Linked DNA regions of Homo sapiens. The protein of the gene in region 2 interacts with the protein of the main gene of each other region in a pairwise test. Each region holds a gene or a part of one and is shown on either strand. Other genes may lie near its edges.

Region 1 (7,044 bases), on a different chromosome or scaffold from region 2:
TAAGATAAGATAGGTACGTGAAGTGTAAAGTACTGACGATATTTATGACAAAAGATAAAAGAAAGTCAAAGAATGAGGCGGAAAAAGGAGAGGCAACATGGATGAAAGGCATTTAAGTGGCTCTTAAAAGATAAGAACTGAACAAGTTGAGATAAAAGGAGGATACTGGAAGGTAGGCAGAAAGCATTCTAGGCAAAGGAAAGAACATGAACAAGTATGGAGGCAAGACAGCAAAAGGGAAAAAGCAAGTCCAGACTACCTGTAATATGGCAAGCAAAGAAAGGTAGAAACAGAATAGTAGCTGGTGAAAACATGATTAGAGGAGCATGTCAGAAGAAGTTTTCACAGCTTCCTTAAACCTGTAATGAGAGAACGGATGTGTCTTTTTGACATCCTTTTCCCTAAATCAGTAAGAGAATGAGACTACGAAAGGAATGGATGCATTTCCCATCTTACCTGAGGTAATGCAAGTCTGAGATCTCTTTCATACAAAGCCAACAGAATTCACAGCCACACACTGCACAGGTCATGTGATTACAGCTTCCATCATTCATCTTGATAATGTATGCACTGCATCGTGGGCATGGCTTGATGTCATCTGCTATGAGTGGGGGAAGAATGGGTAGAAAAAATACCCCTAGTTAAATCCAGTTTGATTTAATTGTTCCTAGGAGTATATATAAGAAATGAGGCAGCAGTCAAGAACTCTTCACTGAACACTCCAAATTGTACAACCCACTTTACTGGAAGGTTGGCTATGTCTAGACCTCAGGAATTTTCATAAAATGAATCCTGTCTCTTATTGAGCTGCCTATCCCAACAACTGGCATCTTACACAGCACTTGAACCACATTCTAGCAAGGAGATTTCCTTAGGGAGAAAGATGTTTCCAAGAAAAATGAAATTTCTACCAGTCGATAGGCTGGTAGATTTAAAAGAAGAATCCTACAGAAAGAATAGCCTGCAGCCTGGAATTAGCTTTACATTTTTAAAAACTTTAGTTTGGGAAATTTATTTTTCAGGTTCAACATGTATCATTGTGATTTGCTGTTAACATAGCCCACAATCCCTTCCCATGATACTTTCAAATTCAAAACCTAAAAACAACTGGGTATGCTATCTACCATATACTTGGTAATTTTCAGAGCAAGTTATGAACTATCCTAATAAAATGACAATTTAGGAAATTATGCTGTGCCAGGAAAAAGTGAATGGCAAAATCTTTCCTACTAGCCTCTCCCAAATGACATCAGCAAAATAAAAGTACAAAGCAATAAATCCACTGACATTTTAAAATAGGTTTCCTCTGACTCGCCAAGGTTGGAGCTGAATGTGTGACATTCCTCCTTTTAAGGTTAATCATTAATCTATACTAATACTGTTTCCTTTTCTTCAATCTGTACTCTACTTCCAAAGGCAGTGAGGCACTTAAGTCAGCTTGAAGGCAAACAGCACAGGTTTAATACTAATTAAATGTCTTTCTGTTCACAATGAAAGTTTTGAAAAAGCCCCTAGCAAAACAAAATGAACTAATTGCTCTCCAATCTGAGACATATTACTAAGAAAGTAGGAACTACATAATTCAATTTTGTTGCATTTCAATTTTATATAGTTGGATAACCTATAATGGTCAGAGAGGGAAGTGCTATCTTTATTATAATATTGAAAGTATTATCAAATGATATTTTCTGCTCTCTGATCCTTTGGAGTACTTGGGTTATACAATAAGATAATTTCTTTCAGCTATGGGCTCACATCATGAAATACCAAATAAAGAGACAATGAGATAATGCCAACTTATACCTGGTCCAGATTCTTGCCCATAACTGAGACCTGAAGTGTGTTTGGTCCGAACTCGTAAAGTCTGGGCCCTCTGTTGACGGGCCATATCGCATGTCTGATTTGGATGCCATATCTGCTTGCAGTGGTAGCAGAACTCAGTCTGGCAACCTTCCCTCTCACAAGTTAGCTTCGGGCAGCTGGCACAGCCATAGGCAATAACAGCATAACTAGGTAAGGAAACAGTAAGAGATACCAGTAAGGTAAGAATGATCTAACCAAAAGAGACATTATTCATCAGAGTTAACAATGTTTGGCACTACCCCACTATCACATATGATACAGAGAAAAGAATACACATACACACATATACACACACAAGCACATTTGACCAACTGTAAAATATATCCCATGTGAGAAAGTAAACTTTTTTTTTTTGAGACAGTCTTGCTCTGTCACCCAGGCTGGATTGTGGAGTGCAGTGGTGTAATCTCGGCTTACTACAACCTCCACCTCCCAGGTTCAAGCAATTCTCCTGCCACAGACTCCCTAGTAGCTGGGATTACAGGTGCAAGCCACCACGCCTGGCTAATTTTTTTTGTATTTTTAGTAGAGATGGGGTTTCACCATGTTGGCCAGGCTGGTCTCAAACTCCTGACCTCAGGTGATCCACCCGCCTCGGCCTCCCAAAGTGCTGGGATTACAGGCGTGAGCCACCATGCCTGGCTATAAATTTCTTGAGATTCCAAAAACACAAATCATTTATTTACTTTAAAAAGTGGAGGTGGAGTATCTTATTTATCCTGGATTTCCAGCATTTATTCAATCATAGCTGAAGCTGCTTTAGGAGTAGTTTGTCATAATAAGTTTCATAAATAACAGGGTACAAAACTATTTCCTTTTGATAGTTTGCTATATTTAGAGAGATTAGTATTTGTTTATACGAAGGAAGAGGACATTAGTGAAATAAAGAGCTATGGCAAAAACTAAAGTTTATTTTTTAATTCCTTCTTTTTTTTTTTTGAGATGGGGTCTCACTGTCACCCAGGGTGGAATGCAGTGGCTCACTGCAACCTCCGCATACCAGGCTCAAGCAATCCTCTTGCCTCAGCCTCTAGAGTAGCTGGGACTACAGGTGCGCACCACCACACTTGGCTAATTTTTGTAATTTGCATAGAGATGGGGTTTCGCCCCATTGCCCAGGCTGGTCGCAAACTTCCGGGCTCAATCAATCAGCCTGCCTCAGCCTCCCAAAGTGCTGGAATTACAGGCATGAGCCACCATGCTACCTTTTCATTCTTTTTTTTTTTTTTTTGAGATGGAGTCTCGCTCTGTCGCCAGGCTGGAGTGCAGTGGCGCGACTCGGCTCACTGCAACCTCCGCCTCCCGGGTTCAAGCGATTCTCCTGCCTCAGCCTCCTTAGTAGCTGGGACTATAGGCATGCATCACCATGCGCAGCTAATTTTTGTATTTTTGTAGAGATAGGGTTTCACCATGTTGGCCAGGATGGTCTCGATCTCTTGACCTTATGATCCGCCCTCCTCGGCCTCCCAAAGTGCTGGGATTACAGGCGTGAGCCACTGCACTCAGCCTTTTTCATTTTTTTTCTTCAAGTAAAAATTGTTTTATTGTCATTAACATATTTAATATAAAAAGAAATGAAGCAAATGGCTCAGTGTTGTATTTTTTAAAAAATCCAGGTTTGTGCAGGTTACTCTATTTACATCTGGGAGCAGAGCTGTCCCCACGTCAGGCATAGCAGTTGCACTTCTCCAACGCCCCTTTGCAGATGCAGCCCTGGGCACACTTGGCACAGCCCACGGGGCAGCAGGAGCAGCAGCTCTTCTTGCAGGAGGTGCATTTGCACTCTTTGCACTTGCAGGAGCCGGCGCACATGCAGGAGCCACCAGTGGCACAGGAGCAGTTGGGGTCCATTTCGAGCAAAGGAGATGCTGGAGCTCCCACCGGTGAGGCCAACAAGCAGTCAGGCAGTTGGAAAGCATGCTGCCTTTTTCATTCTTAAGTTCCAGTTCCACAGTGAAGCTGGTCTGACCATAGTCACAGAGACAATAAACCCTAAAGACTTATGATCAGCATCCCTCTTGAAAGCTCATCTTATCTTTCCATACTTTTTCAATTCAAACCTATACCTTGAAATGTCTTGATAGGCTCCAGAATCCAAGAATACCAGGCCTCTATCTTATAAATTAAAATAGCATTAAGGCCATACCTCCCTTTCTCTCTTCTGACACATATTCTTTTTTTTTTTTTGAGACAGAGTCTCACTATATCGCCCAGGATGGAGCGCAGTGGCGTGATCTCGGCTCACTGCAATCTTCTCCCAAATTCAAGTGATTCTCCTGCCTCAGCCTCCCGAGTAGCTGGGATTACAGGCGCCCGCCACCACGCCCGGCTTTTTTTTTTTTTTTTTTTTAGTAGAGACAGGGCTTCACCATGTTGGCAAGACTGGTCTTCAACTCCTGACCTCTGGTGATTTGCCTGTCTTGGCTTCTCAAAGTGTTGGGATTACAGGTGTGAGCCACTGCACTCAGCTGTGACACATATTCTTCATGTAAAGATTCAGAATTTATCAGCACTAATGTCGACCATTTCTTGTAGTTCATGTTCATTTACCAAGAATTAGTCTCACACAAACAATCCAATATATTTATATAACTATTAGCCTTTCTGATTAATTCCAAATATGTCAATTAAGCGCTCAGATTACTCTAACAAGAAATATAATACTTGTATAAAATAACATTTTAGCCAGGTGAGATGGCTCATGCCTGTAATCTCAGCACTTTGGGAGGCTGAGGCAGGAAGATCGCTTGAGGCCAGCATTTTTAGACCAGCCTGGGCAACACAGCAAGACCTTTTCTCTTAAAAAAAAAAAAAAAAAAAAAAAAAAAAAACAGCCTGGCGTGGTGGCTCACACCTGTAATCCCAGCACTTTGGGACACTGAGGCAGGCAAGTCACAAGGTCAGGAGTTCGAGACCAGCCTGGCCAACATGGTGAAACGCTGTCTCTACTAAAAATACAAAAAATTAGCTGGGCATGGTGGCGGGCGCCTGTAATCCCAGCTACTCAGGAGGCTGAGGGAGGAGAATCGCTTGAACCCGGGAGGTGGAGGTTGCAGTGAGCAGAGATTGCGCCACCATGGGTGTCACTCCAGCCTGGGTGACAGTGTGAGACTCCATCTCAAAAAAAAAAAAAAATCAGCCAGGTATGGTGACACAGGCCTGCAGTCACAGCTACTTGGGAGGCTGAGGTGGGAGGACTGCTTGAGGCTGGGAGGTTGAGGCTCCAGTGAGCCACGTTTGCGCCACTGCACTCCAGCCTGGGTGACAGAGTGAGATTCTGTCTAAAAAAAATAATAAATAAATAAATGGAAAGTTATGAAAGTTAATCACACAATTTTTTTTTTTTTTTTTTTTTTGAAGACAAGGTCCCACTCTGTTGCCCAGCTTCTGGACAGTGGTGTGATGATAGCTCATTGCAACCTGAAACTCCTGGGCTCAAGTGATCCCACCTCAGGCCTCCAAGTACCAGTGCATACCACCATGCCCAGCTAACTTTTTCTTTTTTCTTTTTATTTTTTTTTTGTAGAGACAGGGTTGGTCTTGCTATGTTGCCCAGGCTGGTCTGGAACTTCTGTCTTCAAGCAACCCTCCCGCCTTAGCCTCCCAAAGCATTGGGATTACAGGCGTGAGCCACCAAGCTTGGTCTATGACACACATTTTTAAAAACATCAGTAATTGCAGGTTTCCGTGTTGCCATCTGCACTCTGTCCTCTATTCCAATACTCTCCCGCAATATTCAAAGACCTCAAATAACGTGTACAAAAAGCTAATAACATTTTCTGGGATTTATTCTACAGTTTGCTTGTTTATTTGAATGTACATGAGATGTTAATCATAGCAACTCAAGTTCTCAGGTTTATCATAGAGTCTGCAAATTGACTTGAGAATGATGCTGAAAATATAAATGACAATGTATCCCCTATGTTATATAATACAGGCTGTATTAAAACTCTTTTCAGAAAGAACAAAGTGAGAACAGGTCAGTCTATGAATGCAAATGATTCATATCCTGTAGGAGTTCTGGGCAAATTTACCCCACCTAGCTGCAAAATAACTACTAAAGATAAACAACGTGTCTCCTCAAGACAGTGACTAGCTTGTTATTTTGCATTAAATGGGAAAGTTACTGGATGACCTCAGAAAAGCACTAAGTCAACTTCTAAAGATACAAATTAAGTGGACATCCAGTAGGGAGCCTTGAACACTTCATCATCCATTCCTACCTCACATGGCAGAAGTAAATGTTTATTAACATTCCCCCAGCCCCCACTTCTTTTTTTTTTTTTTTTTTTTTTTTGAGACGGAGTTTCACTCTTGTTGCCCAGGCTGGAGTGCAATGGCGTGCTCTCGGCTTACTGCAACCTCTGCCTCCTGGGTTCAAGCGATTCTCCTGCCTCAGCCTCCCAAGTAGCTGGGCTTACAGGCGCCCGCCACCATGCCCAGCTACATTTTTTGTATTTTTAGTAGAGATGGGGTTTCACCATGTTGGCCAGGCTGGTCTCGAACTCCTGGCCTTCAAGTGATCCTCCTGCCTCAGCCTCCCAAAGTGCTGGGATTACAAGTGTGAGCCACCGTGCCCAGCCCACTTTTTTTTTTTTCTTGAAAAAGAAGAACATTGGATAGGATCAACAATGTCAATTTTGAGTGTGTAATTTGGTGCCAAGGAAGTAAAATAACCCCAAATTACTCATGAATCCACAGCAATCTATTACTACGACACAGAATTACTCAGGGCACGAGATTTGGCATTCCTGTTTTTGGGTACCTGGTCTGAGCTCTTGCCTCTGACTCATGCTGCATGACATGAAGCTATTAAAATCTCCAAACCGGCCTGGTGCAGTCACTCACGCCTGTAATCCCAGCACTCTGGGAGGCCGAGGCAGGTGGATCACCTGAGGTCAGGAGTTCAAGACCAGCCTGGCCAACATGGTGAAATCCCGTCTCAACTAAAAATACAAAAATTAGCCAGGCATGGTGGCGCATGCCTGTAATCCAGCTACTCGGGAGGCTGAGGCAGGAGAATTGCTTGAAACTGGGAGGCGGAGGTTGCAGTGAGCCAAGACCACACCACTGCACTCCAGCCTGGGCAACAAAAGAGGAATTCCATCTCAAAAAAAAAAAAAAACAATCTCCAAACCTTAGCTTCTATTCCACCAAATGGAGGTATAGGTACTTGTCACA
Region 2 (4,925 bases):
ATATAAAAATATATATATTTGGAATTTATGTTTGTTTAGGATTCAGTTTCCACAAGTCTCTGGAAAAGCTAAACTAAACTAATAGAAAGGAGATGCAGGGATAGCATGATAAATTTCATTATCCAGTGCTTGTTTTGGGTTCTTAATATGGTTTTCCTTACTTTTTTCTCTCAGGTATATTCAGAGGTGGCTATGATTTATTGGTGAGGTCCAGGCTGGCCTTAGCCGATGGAGTGACCATGCAGGTGACTGTCAGAAGTAAAGAGAGAACACCTGTAGATGTTATCTTAGCTTCTGTTGGATAAATGCTTACTGGACAAGAGGAAACTGATGCACACTACATGGTCAGTGGGCTTTTAGGCTAGTGGCATCAGTTTCCCAGAATCAGACTTTTGAAGATGAATGACTTTGGAGAAGCAAATTAAACATTTGGCCCTGAGCCAGCAGATCAAGCAAATGTCTATCTTTGCGCATGGGTTGTTTTTTTTTTTTTTTCTTTTTATTCTACTTGGTCAGCTTTGGGACGATAGTGCAGCTTTGGGTGATCTTGAAAATCAAATACTATCCTATACTCCAGCTGCTTAACTTCATTTTATTCTTTAATGTGTACCTGAAAGCTCCTGGCAATGCTGGAAAATTTTTATCCCAGAGGGGTGGGGGGGAGGGGGGAGGGGAAGCCAGAGTCCACTTTTGTCACAATTCATTTTTATTAATAGAAAATAAACACTTATTCCAGTTTCAAAGTTGTTATACTTGAAGTTGCTAATTTAAAAAAACGAATTTTAAATAATCACTTAATAATCCTGCTTTGACTAAGACAATGAAATGTGGCTTTAAAAAAAAAGTATTCAGCACCATTTGCTCATAGGTCTTTCAGAGTTTGTTCTTAAAGTTTCTGGAACTTTCCTGTCTGTAAAGTAACAGGAATTACTGAGCTACATTGGAAAGCCTCTCTGGGACAGGCAGTGGGGAGTTAAGCAGTCATCATAAAGGAATCAGTGTACATTCAGCATGGTGACTTGACTACACAACAATCCCTTCCCCTCTACTGTAGCTCAAGAGAGACATGCTTCTAACCACTGAGGTATGAGGAGTCTCAGACTGTTATTTGCTGTTAGAATTGGTCTTCCCAGCTAATAACAGTACATCTCTGGCACAGATGCTATTGGTCCTTAATGTCCTGTGATTTTAGGAAATAGTTTGGATTTAGTTCAATTTATTCAGAAACCAAATGTGTTTAATTAGCTTCACTACTCTGGCAGAGTAAGGGTATGCTGGTTTAGTATCTTTATAAAATATATATAATGTATAGGTAAATCATAGTCTTAAATCATACCTAAAATACTGTATCATTTAAACCAATATCTATTTTAACAAAATGTTTATAACTAAAAACAGCTGATGAAACACTAAATCCAAAGGTATGACAAAGAGGACTCAGCTCTGTGTTGCTTAAAGAACTTTTAAAAGGCATGTGCCCATAACGTCATTCGAGGAGAGGGAAGGAGCCCCCCTTCTCCTCCTCCTTACTATAGAATTCCTGTTGGGGGTGGGCCAGAAATTAGCACTTCTAAATATTTCAGAGAAGTCCAAAGTGTTAAAAAAAAGTCTTTTATGCAAAAGAACGTCTTTCTGCATCAGTGAATAGTAATGCTCATCAGAATTTCCTAATAGCACAAAAAACAAAGCCAAGTCTATACATTTGATCAGATATCAAAGTAATGGGAGGTGGACTATTATGTCAACCTTAGTCAGAGCTCCTGCTGGCTTCTTCCTATACACTGTTCACCAATTTGAGTAAAGTGGACTTTGTGAGAGAATTATGTTTGATGGCCAGGACCTCTTTTGGGCATTTCTTCCTAAGTGGAATACACAACACATAAGGGAGTAGGGGAGGTAATACAGGGAAGCTACTCTTTCCAGCTCAGAAGGAGTTGATGAAGCCCATATATGCATTCAAGAAGCCCATGGGATCCTCTAGCTGTGGATAGTGGCTAATGTGGTCATCCAGAATCGACACTGTGGACCGCGGCAGCGTTTTCCTAGTGGAAGAGAACAGCACGCAGGTGAACTTGAGGCTGGAGCGGGAGGGATGTAAGCCAGTGGGAAGCCCCAGTAAATGACCCTGTGGACACACCACACTGGAAGGAGCCACCAAAGAGCTTATTCACCTTCTACTCTGAAATTGTATCTTAGGCAGATAAACTTGCCAATTCCATTTATACAAACTAGTTTTTAAATGTTCATAATCCAACAAACAACAACTTGAAAATATAACACTTTTGCAACAATTGTCAAAGCAAGATGACTTTCAGCTCCTTAGAGAAGGATGAAGCATCAAACAAGTGGATCACACAGCAACTCACTGCCCAAGCAGAGATAACCAAGGATCTTCCCTTAATCCCAGGAGGAGATGAGAGAGGGGGTATTTTATTTAAAATTATATGCAAGCTGTTTACTACTAGCTTGTATCCAGTAGGCCACAGGAAGGTATGGAACATTCTTATGTGACATAATCAAGATTTCATATTCTGATACCTTCCAAGTAAGTACCTAGAGAGAATAGCAACCAATGAGAAGGCACTTTTCCACAATGAGCTCTTCTCAATCTCTCCTTGCCATCTGCTCAGCCTAAACCAATGAATTGGCTTTACAATCAGACTAAAACAAACAAACACTTTGTAGGTATATCCACTTTCAACCTTTGACTCACATGAGAGCTTTTTGTACACCAAGGAATATGTAGCAGTCATGACAGTGAAAACAGACTATGTATAAATCAAGAGAACGTATAACTGAATGTCTTGATACTACAATTATGTTAGAATAAGATTCCTCAACTCAATCTTTTTATTGTTTCCTGGATGAACAGCCAGCGAGGTTAAAGACAATGGCTAGAGCCAATAGCCCTCAACAGGCAATTCTGTTTACCACTGTCAGGATGAGATACTAACAAAACATAGACTTCTCTCGGGGAGACTCACCTGTACAGCTCCAAAAACTCTGGATAGGGATTTACAGGATCCAATGGCCCATAGATAAAATGAACTAGAAAAGAGAAAAGGAATGAAATACTTAACAGCTCTCACATCTGTTCTACTCCCACCCTAAAATTAACTCCTCTCCGAAAAGAAATGTTTTCTTCTTCCTTTTTTTATTATAATAGGCAAGGTCTCTCTCTCCCTTGCTCAGGCTGGAGTGCAGTGGTGCAGTCATAGCTCACTGTAACCTCAAACTCGTTGGCCCAAGCGATCCTCCCACCTCAGTGTCCTCAGTAGCTGAGACTACATACAGGTGTGCAACACCACACTTGGCTAACTTTTAAATTATCTGTAGAGAAAAATTTTTCTCACTATGTTGCCCAGAGTGGTGCCAAACTCCTGGGCTCAACCAGTCCTCCCACCTCAGCCTCCCAAAAAGCTAGGATTACAGACGTGAGCATCCTCACCCAGCCCAAGAAAATATTTTCTATAAATAATTTTTTGTGTGATACAAAACCTAGCTTGTTTTATTAGGTAACCTCTAAAAAACTGCTAGGCACGTACCAGTTCATTCATTGGACACATCTCCTCCTACAGACAACCATTTGGTCCCTCATCCAGCTCTCCTGCACCCTGGACCAAATGGGATATGCCCAACTTTCAACATCCTCTAAGTCCAGGATACTATCATTCTTTAAGTCTCTCTTCAGTTATAACAGACCCTTGACATTTGAAATCAACCAATAATTTCCTGAGCACTAATCACTATGTGTGAAACACCATAATTTTTTTTTAAATCTGTAAGAATGAAAAGACAAATAAGCACAAACCACCTATAGCCTCTTGATTAGTAATCCAAACAGCCTTCTGTCCGAGCAATTCAGCATGTAATGTGGCAGTCACTGACAATGCACACCACAGAAATCAGTAATACCAACTACCTTTACAGTAATGTCTCAGCTTTTTATATACTTCACTCTACACACACACATCACTGTTCCAGATGTCATGAGTACAGTTGCCAGTAAAATAAAGGATACCCAGAAAATTTGAATTTCAGGTGAAAAATGATTTTTTTTTGGTGTAAGTAGGTCCCAAATATTGTACAACATATACTTAAATACTAAAAAAGCATTTGTTGTTTATCTAAAATTCAAATTTAACTGGGTATCTTATATTTTTATTTGCTAAATCTGGTAACCCTAATTGTATAAAGGAGTTGCGATTACTTTAACCCTATAGTCCTTCAGTTTCCTATCAATAATACAAAAATACTCACTGGGGATAGTTACAGAGGCAAGAGCTCCCACCCAGCGCCTTCTGAACTTCTTCCTCTGATTGATGTACTGTAAGAGACTGTAGGACAGGTAAGTCAGCATGTGCAGAACAAGAAACCTTTACTGTTACAGGGATTCAAGGGCATAACGAGCCACAAGGAACACAAGATACAATTTCTTAATCCAGAAGCAGTTTAGCATTCCTGGAAATGTCCCACTTAATTTATCCATTTCTGTTAACCTCTAGAGTTAACCACCATGTAGCTCTAGTAGTGATTATGCCTACTATCAATATAAGAATTAGTGGGTTTGTGTATTTATTAAGCAGGGAATGAGATCTAGGAAGGCTGACAGTTGGTTTGGATTTTATGTAACTAAAAAGCCCAGGTCTGAGGTTCCAATTTAGGCTCCACCACTACCTACCTCTCTGACTCAAACATATAACACAGATCTTTCAACTCGGTTTCCTCATTTGTTGGTTTGTTTTTTAAAAGACAGGGTCTCCCTATGTTACCTAGGCTGGAGTGCAGTGGCTAGTCACAGGTGCAATCATAGCTCACTACAGCTATAACTTCTGACCTCAAGAGATCCTCCCACCCCAGCCTCCCAAGTAGCTGGGAGTACAGGCATGTGCCAAAGGACCTGGCTAGCCTCCTCATTTTTAAAA

What was found. The genes of interacting proteins can lie anywhere in the genome.
Region 1: the proteins of MEST (region 2) and RNF19B interact in binary tests that used the Homo sapiens proteins (3 or more experiments, as listed by UniProt).

The regions. Positions count from the first base shown.
Region 1 is NC_000001.11:32,947,766-32,954,809, forward strand, and holds part of RNF19B (E3 ubiquitin-protein ligase RNF19B), read right to left. Parts: intron 4,045-7,044; exon of another isoform or gene 3,715-4,044; coding exon of another isoform or gene 3,529-3,714; exon of another isoform or gene 3,443-3,528; intron 2,010-3,442; coding exon 1,804-2,009; intron 602-1,803; coding exon of another isoform or gene 599-601; coding exon 457-598; intron 1-456. Other genes in the region: metallothionein-1E-like, read right to left, coding at 3,529-3,714.
Region 2 is NC_000007.14:130,502,056-130,506,980, reverse strand, and holds the end of MEST (mesoderm-specific transcript homolog protein), read right to left. Parts: intron 4,338-4,925; coding exon 4,261-4,337; intron 3,049-4,260; coding exon 2,985-3,048; intron 2,043-2,984; coding exon 1,925-2,042; 3' UTR 516-1,924; downstream 1-515. Other genes in the region: COPG2 (coatomer subunit gamma-2), read left to right, coding at 175-305.